Linked DNA regions of Homo sapiens. The protein of the gene in region 3 purifies or fractionates together with the protein of the main gene of each other region. This does not show direct contact. Each region holds a gene or a part of one and is shown on either strand. Other genes may lie near its edges.

What was found.
Region 1: the proteins of TMEM183A (region 3) and MYH7B purify together in Homo sapiens (affinity purification with mass spectrometry; one large-scale study listed by BioGRID and IntAct). This does not show direct contact.
Region 2: the proteins of TMEM183A (region 3) and AASDHPPT purify together in Homo sapiens (affinity purification with mass spectrometry; one large-scale study listed by BioGRID and IntAct). This does not show direct contact.
Region 4: the proteins of TMEM183A (region 3) and LETM1 purify together in Homo sapiens (affinity purification with mass spectrometry; one large-scale study listed by BioGRID and IntAct). This does not show direct contact.

What each region holds. Positions count from the first base shown.
Region 1 is NC_000020.11:34,990,130-34,994,574, forward strand, and holds part of MYH7B (myosin-7B), read left to right. Parts: coding exon 1-17; intron 18-104; coding exon 105-181; intron 182-246; exon of another isoform or gene 247-368; intron 369-608; coding exon 609-696; intron 697-874; coding exon 875-992; intron 993-2,972; coding exon 2,973-3,096; coding exon of another isoform or gene 3,097-3,204; coding exon 3,205-3,341; intron 3,342-4,016; coding exon 4,017-4,272; intron 4,273-4,445.
Region 2 is NC_000011.10:106,094,349-106,097,560, forward strand, and holds part of AASDHPPT (L-aminoadipate-semialdehyde dehydrogenase-phosphopantetheinyl transferase), read left to right. Parts: intron 1-234; coding exon 235-306; intron 307-2,394; coding exon 2,395-2,559; 3' UTR 2,560-3,212. UniProt on the Homo sapiens protein: Catalyzes the post-translational modification of target proteins by phosphopantetheine.
Region 3 is NC_000001.11:203,020,567-203,025,011, reverse strand, and holds the end of TMEM183A (transmembrane protein 183A), read right to left. Parts: intron 4,220-4,445; coding exon 4,064-4,219; intron 2,158-4,063; coding exon 1,972-2,157; 3' UTR 164-1,971; downstream 1-163.
Region 4 is NC_000004.12:1,817,884-1,822,328, forward strand, and holds part of LETM1 (mitochondrial proton/calcium exchanger protein precursor), read right to left. Parts: intron 4,430-4,445; coding exon 4,298-4,429; intron 1,590-4,297; coding exon 1,455-1,589; intron 1-1,454. UniProt on the Homo sapiens protein: Plays an important role in maintenance of mitochondrial morphology and in mediating either calcium or potassium/proton antiport. Mediates proton-dependent calcium efflux from mitochondrion.

The DNA.
Region 1 (4,445 bases), on a different chromosome or scaffold from region 3:
TGCGGGCTCCTGCTCCAGTGAGTATGGAGGGACAAGATCTCCACTCTGACAGGGGCCCACAGAGCGACATTCCCTGGAGTGACCAGGCCCCTTGTCTCTATTAGCTGAGCCCCCCAAGTCTGGGGTGAAAGAGAAGCGTAAGAAGGCAGCATCGTTCCAGACGGTGTCCCAGCTGCACAAGGTAAGGCCCCATCTGGGAGACAGACCCTCCCTCTTGGCAGCCTCCAGCCCCGTCCTTCACCCCCTGCCCTGTCCCCTGTGCCTTGGGCGGGCGGCTGTTAAGACTTGCAGTGATGTTTAACTCCTCTCCACGTGAACATCACAGCAAGTCTGTGCTGCTTCCCGTCCCTACGCTGCCTGGGCAGGGTTTGTGGGGAAGGGGTGGGAGCCCTGGGGCTCTGGGAGGGACGGGGATTTGGCAGGGAAGTGAAGACTTTGGTGGTGGTGATGGGAGACAGCGAAGGGTCTCCCATCACCAGAATGAGAGTGAAAGAGCAAAAGTGCAGGGCACTTAGGGCCCTGCTCCCGTCTCGGTCCTGACCACTGCGGCATCCAATTCTGGTTCTCTGCCCCCTTTGTGCCTTTCCCTCACTCTTCCCCACTGCCAGGAGAACCTCAACAAGCTGATGACCAACCTGCGGGCCACACAGCCCCACTTCGTCCGCTGCATTGTCCCCAACGAGAACAAAACCCCAGGTAGTCACCCAGGGCTGGCCTGGCTGGGGCCGGGAGGCATCATGGGAAGGTGACAGGGCAGAGGCCGGGAGGCTGAGTACATCTTCCCCCTCACCTCGCAGGGTCTCCACTGCTGCTTTTTCTCTGGGGCCTGCGGGTGTGCCTGTTGACCTCTGACCTTTTCCCCTCTCACGTCCAGGGGTCATGGATGCCTTCTTGGTGCTACACCAGCTGCGCTGCAATGGGGTCCTGGAGGGGATCCGGATCTGCCGCCAAGGGTTCCCCAACAGGTTGCTCTACACCGACTTCCGGCAGCGGTGGGTGACCCCTTCCCCCTGCCTGCTGCTCCAGGTGGAGGCCTGAGGGGCTGGGCAGGACACACATATCAGAGCCCAACAGACGGTCCCCTGTCTGGAGGGGGAAGCAGGGACTGTGAGGGGCCTGGCCAGGTATCCCAGCAAGACATGGGGGTGGCTCAGACCTGGCCGGGGACTTGGGGAGAAGTGAATAGGCTTGGGGCAAATAGTGGAGGTGGAGCCTACAGGCCTCGCTGATAAGCTGGACATGGAATTCTGGATGCAGAAAAGACGAATGATTTCTAGTTTTGGGAGTGAGCAACCTGGGAGCTACCAGTGGTAGATTTACTGAGCTACAAAAACAGGGTTTTTTGATTTGGAGGAGAGGTGAAGGGATACTGGTTTGAGCTCTGTTTTGCGTGTATCAGGTTTGAAATGCCTCCAGCAGACATCCTAGAAAAGTCATGGGGGAGATTGGGATTATCAATCTGGAGCTCAGGGCAGCGGGCAGAAAGGATGCAGATTTGGGAGTTGAACGAGAATCATGTGGACGAGGCTTCATGAGACACCTGGCACATAGCAAGCACCTGGGCAGTGCTGCCAGCTCCTCCCCGTTCCCTCAATGGGCAACAAGCATCCATCGTTCCTTCTCCCTCCAGAAGTCATGGTGTCATCCACACTATCCTTTGTAAACAGAGGTTCACACAGATACCATACACGCACACACACGCATGGTGCTGTGACCTTGTTTTTTCTAACAGTCTGGCCTGGAGATCGTTCCTTATCCCCAGGCGTATGCCTGCCATCGTCATCCGTTTTTCTTGGCTGTGAAACATCTCACAGTCTGGTGGACTGCATGCTTTGTTTAATGAGTCCCCCTCATGAGGGGCCTTCACAGCGTGGCTGTAGCCCACCTGACCCACACAGCCCTGTGCATGTGTCCACTTAGAAGTGGGCAGGCTGGGAGCCCTGGCTCTTTTGCATTAGAATTTCCCCCCAAATGGGCTGGGCGCGGTGGCTAACGCCTGTAATCCCAGCACTTTGGGAGGCCGAGGCAGGCGGATCACGAGGTCAGGAGATCGAGACCATCCTGGCTAACACGGTGAAACCCCATCTCTACTAAAAATATAAAAAAATTAGCCGGGCGTGGTGGCGGGAGCCTGTAGTCCCAGCTACTCGGGAGGCTGAGGCAGGAGAATGGCCTGAACCCGGGAGGCAGAGCTTGCAGTGAGCAGAGATCGTGCCACTGCACTCCAGCCTGGGCGACAGAGCGAGACTCCGTCTCAAAAAAAAAAAAAAAAAAGAATTTTCCCCCAAATGTTTCTTCAGTGATAGGGTACAGCATGTCACCTTCTACTAATATTTTTTGCCTTTAAAAAAATTTTAAAAATAGTGCATGCCTTCTGTAAAAAGCCTCTTTAAAAACTTAATGAATGCATTTAAAATCCCCCCAAGGTTGTGTTTTTTTTTTTTTTTTTGAGACGGAGTCTTGCTCTGTCACCCAGGCTGGAGTGCAGTGGCAGGATCTTGGCTCACTGCAACCTCTGCCTTCTGAGGTTCAAGCGATTCTGCAATTCTTCTGCCTCAGCCTCCCGAGTAGCTGGGATTACAGGCGCCCGCCACCATGCCCCACTAATTTTTGTGTTTTTAGTAGAGATAGGGTTTCACCATGTTGCCCACGCTGGTCTTGAACTCCTGGGCTCAAGCAATCCACCCGCCTTGGCTTCCCAAAGTGTTGTGATTATGGGCGTGAGCCACCGCACCCAGCCAACCCCCCAGGGATTTTAAGTGGAGTGTCCCTAGTGTCCCAGTGTGGTGACGCATCCCTGGCCCCCTTGTTTGGCATGTGCCCTGCTGGAACCTCTGCACCAGCCTCGGAGAGGCCCAGGAACGAGTCCCCTGCTACCCACACGAGCCTCCTCAGTCCCTGACTTCCCCATTCTCAGTGGCCTGTGCCCCATACCCAGCCCTCTCCTGACCAGCTCTGCCCTCCTTTCCCAGGTACCGTATCCTGAACCCCAGTGCCATCCCGGATGACACCTTCATGGACAGCAGGAAGGCCACAGAGAAACTGCTGGGCTCGCTGGACTTGGATCACACCCAGTACCAGTTTGGCCACACCAAGGTCGGGGCACTGTGGGATCAGGGCTGGCCATGGCTGTGGCGGTCACACTGGGCAGGGTTCATGCGGATGGTTGGGGGTTACCCTGGCTGTCTACCTCTCCGCCCCCAGGTGTTCTTCAAGGCTGGGCTTCTAGGCGTCCTGGAAGAGCTCCGTGACCAGCGCCTGGCCAAGGTGCTGACGCTGCTGCAGGCGCGGAGCCGTGGCCGCCTCATGCGCCTTGAGTACCAGCGCCTGCTGGGAGGCAGGTGGGTGTGGGAAGGAGGCTGGGGACAGGGTGTGTCCCCTGCCTCTCAGCTCCCAGACCCACTGGCTCTCCCAACCCTAACATGCTGCCCTGTAGTCAGATCAGCCCCTGTGGCTGGTTGGGGCAAGGTTCTGTTCTGTGTCCCCCAGCCTCCATTTCCCCACCTCAAAAAACGGGGTACGGCACTTGCCTCTCCATTTCAGGACATCAGCGTGTGGCCCGGAGGGGTAGCGATGGCACCCAGTGTCTTCCAAGACTCTTGCGGGCCGGGCCCCAGGCAAGATACTTTCTCTGCATTATCCTGGTTAAAGCGCTGACGGTCCTGAGAAACAGGCGCTGTGATGGCCTCCACTCAGCAGAAGGGTGCCCGTGTCAGAGATCCAGAGCTAGCTGGCACGTCAGCCCAGGCCGCTGACTCCAGAGCCCCGTGGCTTAACAGCCCTGGTGTCTTCCGGGAATTGCAGAGGCCACCAGGACATGGGGGGCTCATGAGCCCCTTCACTGGAGGCAGGCCTGTGGGACTGTGGGCCTCCCCTCACCCTCACCTATAAAGCAGAGCTATTAGGAGCTACTCCATGAGGCTGCTGGGAAGGCAAAACAAGTGAACTGTGCTGAGTGTCACCATTTGTGACGGGCAGCACTGAGCCACCTTCACAGCTTGGCTGCCCCTCCCTAGGGATGCGCTGTTCACCATCCAGTGGAACATCCGTGCCTTCAATGCCGTCAAGAACTGGTCATGGATGAAGCTCTTTTTCAAGATGAAGCCGCTGCTGCGCTCGGCGCAGGCTGAGGAGGAGCTGGCGGCCCTGCGGGCAGAGCTGCGGGGGTTGCGAGGGGCGCTGGCTGCGGCCGAGGCCAAGCGCCAGGAACTGGAGGAGACGCACGTCAGCATCACCCAGGAGAAGAATGACCTGGCCCTGCAGCTGCAGGCTGTGAGTCAGGGTTCCCCTTGTGACCGGGCGTCCCCAGCCCCGAGTACCCCTGGCTGCTCTGAGGGATAGTACAGCGAGACCCATGGGGCTCAGGCCTTATGTCTCTCTGTTCCAAAGATGCCATGAGATGAGGCCTCCATGTCCCAGCCTCACCACCCCAAGGCCTCGTCTGG
Region 2 (3,212 bases), on a different chromosome or scaffold from region 3:
GAATGTGCCTACTAGGAAATACATGTTGAAGTATTTAAGAGTAAAGGGCCAGCACATATGTAACTTCTAAAGTAGTTTAGCGGAGGTGGGGAAATATATATATGCACGCGTGTGAGTGTACGTATATGTATATATATATAGAGAGAGAGAGAATGAGATTTAGAAAATGTAAACAAAGTTACATCTAGGTTTACATATTTTATAATCTATATTTATTTACCTTTTATCTTTCAGGAAAGCAAAATAGATGAGCACCATTTTGTTGCAGTTGCTCTTAGGAAACCCGATGGATCTAGACATCAGGATGTAAGATTTTAGGATTTCTCTTTTTTCTAAATAGCATGAATCAATGTTAAGTTTGCTCTTTATTGATGGAAATAGTCATTTGCCTTATATCAGTTTAGAGAGATTTTTTTAAGATTATAGATATAGTAGTACTCTTTATTAGCAAATATTAAGATCACTAGGGATTTTGTAGAAACATTTTTAAAAAGCAGCTGGGCATGGTGGCTCACACCTGTAATCCCAGCACCTTGGGAGGCTGAGGCAGGCGGATCACCTGAGGTCAGGAGTTCCAGACCAGCCTGACCAACATGGAGAAACCCCATCTCTACTAAAAATACAAAATTAGCCAGGTGTGGTGGCGGGCGCCTGTAATCCCAGCTACTCAGGAGGTCTGAGACAGGAGAATCGCTTGAACCTGGGAGGTGGAGGTTGCAGTGCACCAAGATCGCACCATTGCACTCCAGCCTGGGAAACAAGCGAAACTCCGTCTCAAAAAAAAGAAATGTTACCCGCTTCTTCACATTCGTATACGCTTAAGTATTACAACAAAAAAAAATATGGTAGTACTATCATGCTACTCATATTTCCAATAGACATTCAAGATTATCTTAGTCATCTTAACAGTAGTTTATTTCTTGGTGAATTGGGGTTGTGTTGAATGTAAGAGTACCACGTTGAAGGTTGATGAGTAATGGAATTACCTTGCAAATTGAATCCACTCCTCCTTTTAAAGTAATATCCTGAATTATTCCCAAAGTTACAGTGTCAAACATGTAAGAGACCTTGTGTCATATTGTGGCATAACATCAGTTTCAATTATTCAGCCACAATGTTTTTATACTTTCTTATCCTATTACCTGGTAAGCAAGTGGGGGAAGAACTTAGGGTCAAAGACTCTTAGATTTCATATAATTGTGATTCTGCAGAAGTATTTATTTAAGGAAAACGTATGTTTTAATGAAAACTACATGCATTCCATTATTTTTAGTAAATCAACATGAAAGAATGTAGCATGATCAATATATATGCATCGTTACTTCCACAAAAGTAGCTCAGGCAACACACCAAACCTTTGATAGATTAATCAAAGGATTACGAGTTCTCCATAGATTATCTTCCTTAAAAAGGGATGGCATGTTAAAATTGACACCTGTTATCTGAAGATGTTCTGACCCAGGTTACTCGTCCTTCTGTTTTTAAATCTCAGCTTCACACTCCCTGCAAAAATACCTTTTGTTTTCATAGAGCTTTATAATTGTTGAAACATTTGCATATTCAGTACTTTTCATTTCCCTGGACAGAGCCTGTTTAGGCAACAGTGGCATGTTGGGAAGACTAGAGTACAATTCACAAAATTGGGTTCTAGGCCCACATCTACCATTTAACCTATGTTTTGAGCTTGGACAAATTGTTTGAATTGTTTGCTCTTCCTGAGCCTCAGATTCCCCATCCATAAAATTAAGATAACCGTATCACAACATAGCTATGAGACCAGTCATATAAGTACTGGACCTTGACTTGTTAAAGCGCTATACAAAACCCAAGTACTATTTATACTAGATGTGTAGAATATTAAAGAGGGTCTGCACTGGGTTCAATTGTGAACAAGGGCTCTATCTCAGAGAGTAAGATACAGTTTAAATTTAATATTGAATAAATAATTTCCTAAAGAAGTATACATCTCTGTATAGTTATGGCAGTTTTATCAGACCCACCTTTTAGAGTAGTATTTCACAAAAGTTCACTTTCTCACTCACCTCTATCAAAATAACCTGACTGCTCGTTAAAATTACAGATTTTGATATCCCTTCTAACTGATATGTAGTAAATCACACTTTTTGGATGTGGGGCCCAGTAAATCTACATGTAAAATACCACAGGTTTTTGTTATATAAAAAAGTTCAAGAATCAGGTTTTCTATTTCATTTTTTTTTGATTTGTTGTATTGGCAACACTAATATAAGAAATACAAACAATGTTCTAGGAATCCTATGTTGTCATTTAATACTACTGAAATGTAAGTTGGTCTTACTTATTTTCATGATTATGAAATTGATCATAAGATTAACATGCAATATAACAATAAGGTAATCTGCTTTTGTCTTTTAGGTTCCATCTCAGGATGATTCCAAACCAACCCAGAGGCAATTTACTATTCTCAACTTTAATGATTTAATGTCATCTGCCGTTCCCATGACACCTGAAGATCCTTCATTTTGGGACTGTTTTTGCTTCACAGAAGAAATTCCAATACGAAATGGTACAAAGTCATGATGATTCCCTGAGTAACAAAGGGAAATGAAAACTGTTTGTGATCTTCCGTATTCACTGAAAAATAAATGCTTGTTTAGTATCAAATTTTATTTCACGAAAGTTTTTTTAAAGAACAGAAACTTTTCCAATTAAAAAAAAAAAGCAGACTTCTGGTTCAAGATAGCTCACTGGAATACATGTTTACCTCTTTCTTTCCTAAATTGCATTGAATTGATAGGAAGGATGGCGGAATCTTAAAGTGATACATGCTAACTGTAGAAAAAAATAGAAAATGCACATAAGCAAAAGGAAACATTTAAATGCTATCTTTCAAAGATAACTACTCTTAAAACCTTGAGTATCTTTTCAGACCTTTTTCTTGGCAAATGAATCCATATTGACATATTTGATTTTTTTAAAAACATGGAAACGTACTGTTTTGTAAATTCTTTTTAACTGCACATCTACTGTTCATAAATATACCTCTGTAACATAACTTTTTGTGGTTCTAATGTACTCTGTTGTATAGCTAATACAAGTTAGGATGCTTTTGGCCAGAGGTAACAGTGTCCAAATATAATTGGCCTAAGTAACCTAGGAAATTGTTTGACATAACACAGGGTTCAGGGGTGTCATTAAAGACACACTTTTTTTGCCTTGACCTCAGTTGGTTT
Region 3 (4,445 bases):
CTCAGCCAATGCAGAGGAAGGCTGAAGCCAAGATAACGACTGGTAACACATTTTACCAAATGTTTGTCAATATTATGCTGAGAGAGAGCTGAGGCAGTATCTAGTACTGTATCTGTCACCATACCATGGAATTTGACACAAAAAACTCAGAGCTGAGTCAGAATACAATTATTAAGCCAAATTTATTTCACCCCCTTTTTAAAGGTACTCCTAAGCGGGGAACAATGCACCAAGACACTCCTGCTCCATGGCATCTTTAGTTCAGGCAACCTGGCAGGGACTGTGCTTCTCCCCTCCTGCCTCAAAGAGGCAACTTTTAATTGTAGAGATCTGCAAAGTGCTCATTGTCCTTAGGTTGTCTGTTATCACTCAAATGCCCAAATTCTGTTTTTGACTGACCCAGGCTCACTCTGTGTGAACAGTTTTAATACCACCCTCAACGTGGGATAAGGTTAGCTGTTAGCAGCAAAATTAAGCAGATGCTTTCTAGGAATATTCCTAGGGAAGATGGTAAAAAAAAAAAAACAAAAATGTGAATTTAGCAGTTTGCCTCACAAGATTTTCACTTTTAAAGAATACTGTCTTAATGCCCACCTCCTGGCAATATCCAGGTAATATCCAGCTCACTGGTTAATTTTGGATGGTGGAGGGTGGGAGGAGAGACAAGCAGCAAGGTTTTCTCCTTAGCAAAACAGAAAAACGTGATTCTCTTCTCAGAGTACACCTGAACAATAGGAGTCATCTAAACAACAGGAGGACATAAGCATTTCTGCATGGACGGAAGACCAGGCTTCTGTAGGCACACAGGATGACAGCAGAAGCAGCACAGTACAGGGCAGAGCAAAGTCGCTAAGTGCTTATGGTTCAAGAGGCTGGTTTCAACATGCAATGCATTTTGTTAATGACGTTTTAGCCTAATAAATGCCCTTCTAACAGTTCAAGGAAAGGGTCACTATCCTTCCTGAAATAACTTTCTTGGTTTTACATTTTATTCAGAAATACATATTTAAAAGATCATTTCATCAATCTTCTAAACTTTTTTGGCTGATTAGAATAACATATACCACAATCAATTTTTTACTTACCCTTTTACTTTTTTTTATCTATGTACACTCTGCCTACTCCTTTTTACCACCATCTACCACAAGAAAAATGAGACTCATCTTTTAAACTTATGGTACAACAAAAAGACCTGGGTCAGAATCTTGGCTCTGCATTTACTGGTGTTATAGGTACAGTCACTAATTCCGTTTTCTCAACTATAAAATGGGAATAATATCACCTACTTTGCAAGACTGTGAGAAGTAGAGATACTATGTAAAGTTCCTAGTATAGTACCAAGGGTATAAAGTCATCATCACCATTATCAGCCTCATGCAAAAAAATACCTAAAATCCAAAACTGCCAAAAGAAAATGTATGCAATAAATATCACAAATTATTTTTTAAAAAAGATACACAAGTCAATATGGTAAGATTCTGAAAACCCTGTCACCTGCTTTATTTCTGGAGAAGGGTAAAGGGAGAAGGGAAAATATTCACTTGAATTTGAGGGGCAGCTAAACTGGAAGCAACAATTTCAGGCCTCTAAGGTTCCTCTGATCCATAAGGGAATGCTGAAACTTCCTTGTTTGGAGATTCAAAGAGTTTAATTTTTCCCTACAGCAAGATCAACAATTTTCACTGGGATAAAAGAATAAAGAACAAACTCAATAGCACCAAATGGGGTTTTAACACAGAAAACAGGGCCACTCCTTTTAAATGCAAATTTTTACATTAAAATATGTTTATAAATCATAGTAGTTGTTTTCCCTCTTGATTCAACATTTCTCCCTCCCCTAACAGGAGCCCTAGAACCTGAAGAGCATGTACATTACTAACGAGATATACAATCCAGCCACCCTGTCCAAACTGGAATCTGATTACTAATGGACTACACTCGAGGCTGCCCCCAAGGGATGGGAAGCAGTAACTACGCTCTCAGGGAGAATGGGTACTGAGGATGCCACCAGTCAAAGAGCCGAACGCTGTGCACTGGGTCCAGGATGACTTGCACACCCTGTTCACTGCGCAGTTTCCGACCACCATGGACAGGGGAATCTTGGAACACCAGTCTCACTCGATGATGCCGCATGTCCGTGCTCACATTGATAGTAAACTGAAATGGAAAAGCAAATTCAGTATCCAACTTACACAACCTTGGTTTCCAAGAGCTCACTCTGAAATGAAATAGTCCAGACTAATTTATACTGGCTAGGCCACAAGATTAATCTCTAAATTATAAAACAAACACCTTTTTTTTTTTTTTTTGAGAAAGGACCTCGTTCTGTTGCCCAGGCTGTAGTGCAGTGATGTGATCTCGGCTCACTGCAACCTCCGCCTCCTGGGATCAAACGATTCTTGTGCCTCAGCCTCCCAAGTAGCTAGGAATATAGGCGTGCACCACCATGACCGGCTAATTTTTGTATTTTTAGTAGAGACAGGGTTTTGCCATGTTGGCCAGGCTGGTCTCAAACTCCTGACCTCAAGTGATCTGCCCACCTCGGCCTCCCAAAGTGCTGGGATTACAGGCATGAGCCACCACGCCCAGCCAACCTTTAAAGATATAAAAAATTAAGGAGAATTTTATAAGGCCTTCTCAGCTTCACGTTTAAACTATGCTAAAGAAAGCCTCCCTAATGAGCACTTTGGGAGGCTAAGGCAGGCAGATTGTCTGAGGTTAGGAGTTTGAGACCAGCCTGAGCAAACCCCATTTCTACCAAAAATACAAAAATTAGCTGGGTGTGGTGGCAGGCACCTGTAATCCCAGATAGCTACTTGGGAAGCGGAGGCAGGAGAATCACTTGAAACCAGGAGACAGAGGTTGCAGGGAGCCGAGACTGCGCACCACGGCACTCCAGCATGGACTACAGAGCGAGACTCCATCTCAAAAAAAACAAAACAAAACTGTATATATGACACAATCTCAATTATACAAAATTATTTGAGAGAGAGAGAGTACATACATATTAACAGACACATTAAGAGAACAGTTCCCAAAAGATTAATTGCAGTTACAGGATAGTGGAAGTCTAAGTCACCTTTACTTTGTCAGTATATTTATGTATTATTTGAAGTCATTTACCATTTTAAAAAAGCTACTTTCATTGTGGAAGGGGAACCTCATGTATTTCTGAATGTAAGCCTAAGATACAGAGAAGACAAATTACATGAACTCTCCAGTTGCCAAGCCAATGAAAAATTTTTAAAACCTGGAAAAATATGCCAGAGGCACATACGTTGTTTACTAATTACTGGCCAAGCCTTGAACAGTGATAATATCACACAAAGGACAGAGCTGAGCTGGTCACCCTGTATTTTAATATCCCATTTGTAACCCCATATGCATGCCTCAAGGTCCTGACATACAGTGCCCATGTATATATCTCATCATTCTTCCTAATAGGATAATGTTTCTCAATCATTAATCATCACTACACATGAAAATGCAAAAACATTCCCTTTCCTACAAAGAAGGAAACAAGGTAAAATACTCTCAGATATAATTAATGTCTCCACAAATCTGTCTGTTGCTAATATACAGGACTGAGTTCAAACTTTTTTTTTGAAAAAAGATACCTTCCTTCATGGTTAAATTTACAAATATCCTTCAAACCTCAGATATAGCAAAAATCTATAAAAAAGCTGAATGCAGTGGCTCACACTTATAATCTCAGCACTTGAGAGGCCGACGTGGAAGAACTGCTTGAGGCTAGGAGTCTGAGACAAGCCTCAGCAACGCTGTGAGACACCCATTGCAACAAAAAATAAAAATTAGCTAGGGGTGGTGGTGCACACCTGTAGTCCTAACTACTTGGGAGGCTGAAGCAAGAGGATAGCTTAAGCCCAGGAGTTTTGAGGTTGCAATGAGTGATGATTCCATCACTGCACTTCAGCCTGAGTGACAGAGTGAGACCACGTCTCTTAAAAAAAAAAAAAAAAAAAAGAGCTGCGGTTCACCTCCTTTCAGAATGAAAAAAAAAAAAAAAAAGGAGCTGAGAATGACATCCTGAGTCCCCACTTACCAGAGTAAATATCATTCCCATGACAATCGGAATAAAGATGAAATTGAGGGTGGTGACCTGCAGTAGGCAGCAGTCCTGGTCTGGATTGGTATGAACATCTTCGTACTGAACGGGAGGCTGCAATCCTCCTGTACACTTGCTCTTTAACCTAGGGGACTGAAGAGAACTGAGAATTAATCCAATGGCTTAGAAGAAACATTATATGGCTCTAAGAGTCCACCAAAGAAAATCCTATGGCTCAACTAAAGCTAGTGAGATACACTTTTATCTTCTCTCTTTATACATGTTTCTATACAGAGATCAAAGAAAACCTACCCTTTGAAAGAAGGGTAAATACATTTGGATGAGCAAATGTGGCAATGGGTTTATGCTTCGTTTAGAT
Region 4 (4,445 bases), on a different chromosome or scaffold from region 3:
ATCCTCCTGCCTCAGTCTCTGGAGTAGCTGGGAGTACAGGCACACAACATCATGCCTGGCTAATTTTTGTATTTTTTGCAGAAATGGTGTTTCACCATGTTGCCCAGGCCGGTCTCAAACTCCTGAGCTCAAGTGATCCTCCTGCCTTGACCTCCCAAAGTGCTGGGATTACAGGCCTGAGCCACCAGTGCCCAGCCTTAAGTGTCTTTTTAAATTCCAAGTTGTTTTTTTCCCACGAGTAAACACCATGAGGAAGAATGGGGAAGGCGAGGGGAGGGGAGGGAAGGAACAGGCTGAGCTGGTGATAAGCACCTCACATCCAGTGGAGAACCCACATGGCATGAGGGCTGTCATAAATCTAGAAATGGCCAATTATTTTTGCCAATTGAAAAATCAGTTATCATTCCCAACAGAGCTATGAAAACAGTTTTTAAAAAATCGTATTAGGGGCCGGGCACAGTGGCTCATGTTTGTAATCCCAGCACTTTGGGAGGCTGAGGCGGGTGGATCATGAGGTCAGGAGTTCGAGACCAGCCTGGTCAACATGGTGAAACCCTGTCTCTACTAAAAATACAAAAAATTAGCCAGGCATGGTGGCACATGCCTGTAGTCCCAGCTACTCAGGAGGCTGAGGCAGAAGAATCATTTGAACCCAGGAGGCGGAAGTTGCAGTGAGTCGAGATCACGCCACTGCACTCCAGCCTGGGCGACAGAGCTAGACTTCGTCTCAAAAAAAGAAAAAAAGAAAGAAAGAAAGAAAAAAAATCGTTATTAGGAAGTAATATTTACAAAAAAAGGGAAACAAACCACCATGGAAGAAAAGAAAAAAGCCACTTTCACGTAATCATGAATAAGATCTCGTCAAGTGACCAAACTCTTCATGAGACACCTTCCCATGTTTAGAAACTAAAAGATGTGGCCAGGCACGGTGGCCACGCCTGTAATCCCAGCACTTTGAGAGGGCGAGGCAGGTCGGTCACCTGGGGCCAGGAGTTCGAGATGAGCCTGGTCAACATGGTGAAACCCCGTCTCTACTAAAAATACAAAAAATTGAGCTGGGCATGGTGGCACATGTTTACAGTCTCATCCACTCGGGAGGCTGAGGCACAAGAATTGCTTGAACCCAGGAGGTGGAGGTTGCAATGAGCTGAAATTGTGCCACTGCACTCTGGCCTGGGCAACAGAGCAAGACCTTCTTACAAAAAAAAAAAAAAAAAGGTGCACACACATCTGTGGCCAGAACGGCACACAGCCACATTACAGAGGATTGGTCCAGCCGGAATGGCTGTGGAAAGGTTACTGAATAAGGTTTATTTATAACGTGCTTTCCTCTCCAAATACTCTTTGGCCAGCTTATCAAGTATCTGACGGAAGTATTATGTATACTTTTGGGGCCAGTACAGCGATTTTACTCTTCTTGCAGTCTCAGAGTCCAGGGAGCAAATCCCACCCACCTCGCTGTAGTCCTGCACATCCTCCTTCAGCAGCTCCAGCTCCTCCTTCTCCTTGGTGAGTGACTTCTTCTGCTCCTGCAGCTTAGAGCAGGCATCGCTGAGGATGTCGATTTCCTCCTTCGTGATCTCTTCCTCCTGGGATAAAAATGGGCAAACAACAAAGCCTGAGCCAAGGGAAAGAACTGGCCTGTTCCCAAGTGACCAGCTGCTCTGTTCATATTATACGGGCAGCCCAGGGCAAGAGTCTCACTGGACAGTCATTGGTAACAAGAGACCCGCGGGGTTCAGGTTCACTGCTGCGCTGGCTGCTGCACGCAGTCACTGTCTGCCCTCATATGCCAAACCCCATTTGTTTAAAGCGCGTCATCTATGAATTGACACGTGTACTGTGAAACTTCACTACAGTCAAAGAGTCACCTCCAAATGCATCTTTGTGCCCCCACTGGGTCCCGCCACCGACCCCCAGGCAACCTCAGGTCCTGCCACTGCAGACTCGGGTGCACTTTCTAGCATCTTAGATAGACGGATCATCCAGCAAGCACTCTTTTTGTCTGACTTCTCTCACTCACTTATTTTGAGATTTGCCCCTGTGGTCGTGTGTTTCTTGTCTTGTTTTTTGAGACAGGGTCTCACTCTGTTGCCCAGGCTGGAGGGCAGTGGTGCAATCATGGCTTGCTGCAGGCTTGATCTCCCAAGCTCAAGCAATCTCCTGCCTCAGCCTCCCCAGGAGCTGGGACTACAGGCACACACTGACATATCTGTCCAACTTTTTATTTTTTGTAAAGACGGCGTCTCACTATGTTGCCCAGGCTGGTCTCAAACTCCTGGACTCAGACGATCCTCCCACCTCGGCTTCCCACAGTGCTGATATCACAGGTGTGGGCCCCGCGCCCAGCCTCTCTGTTTGGTTTTTCTTTCCCTCAGCAACATTTTACAGTACTCCGTGGACAGCACTTGCATATCTTTTTCCAAATTTATCCCTAAGTAGTTCATTTTGGGGGGTGCCATACTGTTCAAACCTTCTCTGACTACTCATTACCATAGTGAAGCACAATTGATTGTTCACACCATTTGTGAATAAAGAGTTTTCCTTTTTCCTTTCTGATCTATATGGTTTTGTTTTCTGTATTCAACTGCCCTGACTGAAACCCCCAAGCTGATGCTGAGCTCAGAGTGAGGACAGACAACCTCATCAGCGTCTCACCACTGAGGGTGACGGCAGCTGGAGGTGTTTCTGCAGATGCTTTTGATTGGGCTGAGAAAGCTGCCTGCATGTGCAGGACATCTGCATATCAGGAACAGATACTGGGTTCTGCCACAGGCTCTTTCTGCAGCTACCAAGATAAACATTCCCAGCTTTTCTAATTTAGTCTGTTAATATGGAAATTACATTTTAAAAATTTTGGCCAGGCACAGTGGCTCAAGCCTGTAAACCCAGCACTTTGGGAGGTCGAGGTGGGAGGATCACTTGAGGTCAGGAGTTCGAGACCAGCCTGGCCAACATGGTGAAACCCCATCTCTACTAAAAATACAACAATTAGCTGGGTGTGGTGGTGGGCACCTATAATCCCAGCTACTCGGGAGGCTGAGGCAGGAGAATCACTTGAGCCTGGGAGGTCAAGTCTTCAGTGAGCCAAGGTCATGTCTGCACTGCAGACTGGGCAACAGAGTGAGATCCCACCTCAAAAGAAAAAAAATTCAAGCCAATTTGCATTTTTTGGACAAATCCCATGTGATCATGATTCTTTTTACAGAATAGTTCTATTTGATTTGCTAAAAAGTGAAATTTTTTTTTTTTTTTTTTGAGACAGAGTCTCACTCTGTCACCCACTGCAAGCTCTGCCTCCCAGGTTCACACCATTCTCCTGTTTCAGCCTCCTGAGTAGCTGGGACTACAGGTGCATGCCACCATGTCTGGCTAATTTTTTGTATTTTTAGTAGAAATGGGGTTTCACCATGTTAGCCAGGATGGTCTCGATCTCCTGACCCCGTGATCCGCCCACCTCGGCCTCCCAAAATGCTGGGATTACAGGCGTGAGCCACTGCGCCTGGCCAAATTTTTTTTTTATGGCTGGGTGTGGTGGCTCACACCTGTAATCCTAGCACTTTGGGAGGCTGAGGCGGGAAGATCACTTGAGGTCAGGGGTTTGAGACCAGCCTGGCTAACATGGTGAAACCCCCTGTCTACTAAAAATACAAAAATTTGCTGGGTCTGGTGGTGCACGCCTGTACTCCCAGATATTGGGAGGCTGAGGCAGAAGAGTTGCTTGAACCTGGGAGGCTGAGACTGCACTGAGCCGAGATGGCGCCACTGCACTTCAGCCCGCGAGTTCAAGATGGAAGGTACCAGGAGGCGCCCCAGGTAGGCAGCACAGGCGCCTGGAGGCTGCACCTCACAGGCTCGCATGGGGAGTCTGAAGATGCTCCAAGCCCAGATCACCCCACAGGAGGTGACAGCAGGTTGGGCCTGTGGAGGAGGCTCTACCTTGAGGGGCCACATTGGCTTCCACACCCCTTCACTGTCTGGGCAAGCTGGCAAAGGGCCCTGAAACCTGCCGACTGGCATCTCTACCTGCCACACTGTGGGCCAGGGTGCTAAGTTCACGGCAGCGTCAGCTGCTGTGCACCCAGGCACAGTGCGGAGCCCGGCCGGACTCACTCTTTTCCTAACCACCAAGCCTCCTAGGGGCCCAGTGGCCTCATCCTCAACCCCTTGCACCATCTCCTCTCACTGAGGGCTATAGATGCCCCAGCTAACCTGTCCCCATCCCTGCCCCACAACTGTCCACAAAGCCAGGCCATGCCCTCCTCAGCCTCCAGGGCCCCAGAACCTGCCTCATTACCTTCAAGCCCTCCAGCACCGGGGCAGTGTCCTTCAAGGTCTCTGACTGCAGGACTGTGTCAGGCATTTCTGGCTGTGGCTCGGTCCCCGGCCTTTGGGGAGCAGCTACCACACGTTCGGGCTCAAAATCCTTCTGAAAGGCAAGGCGA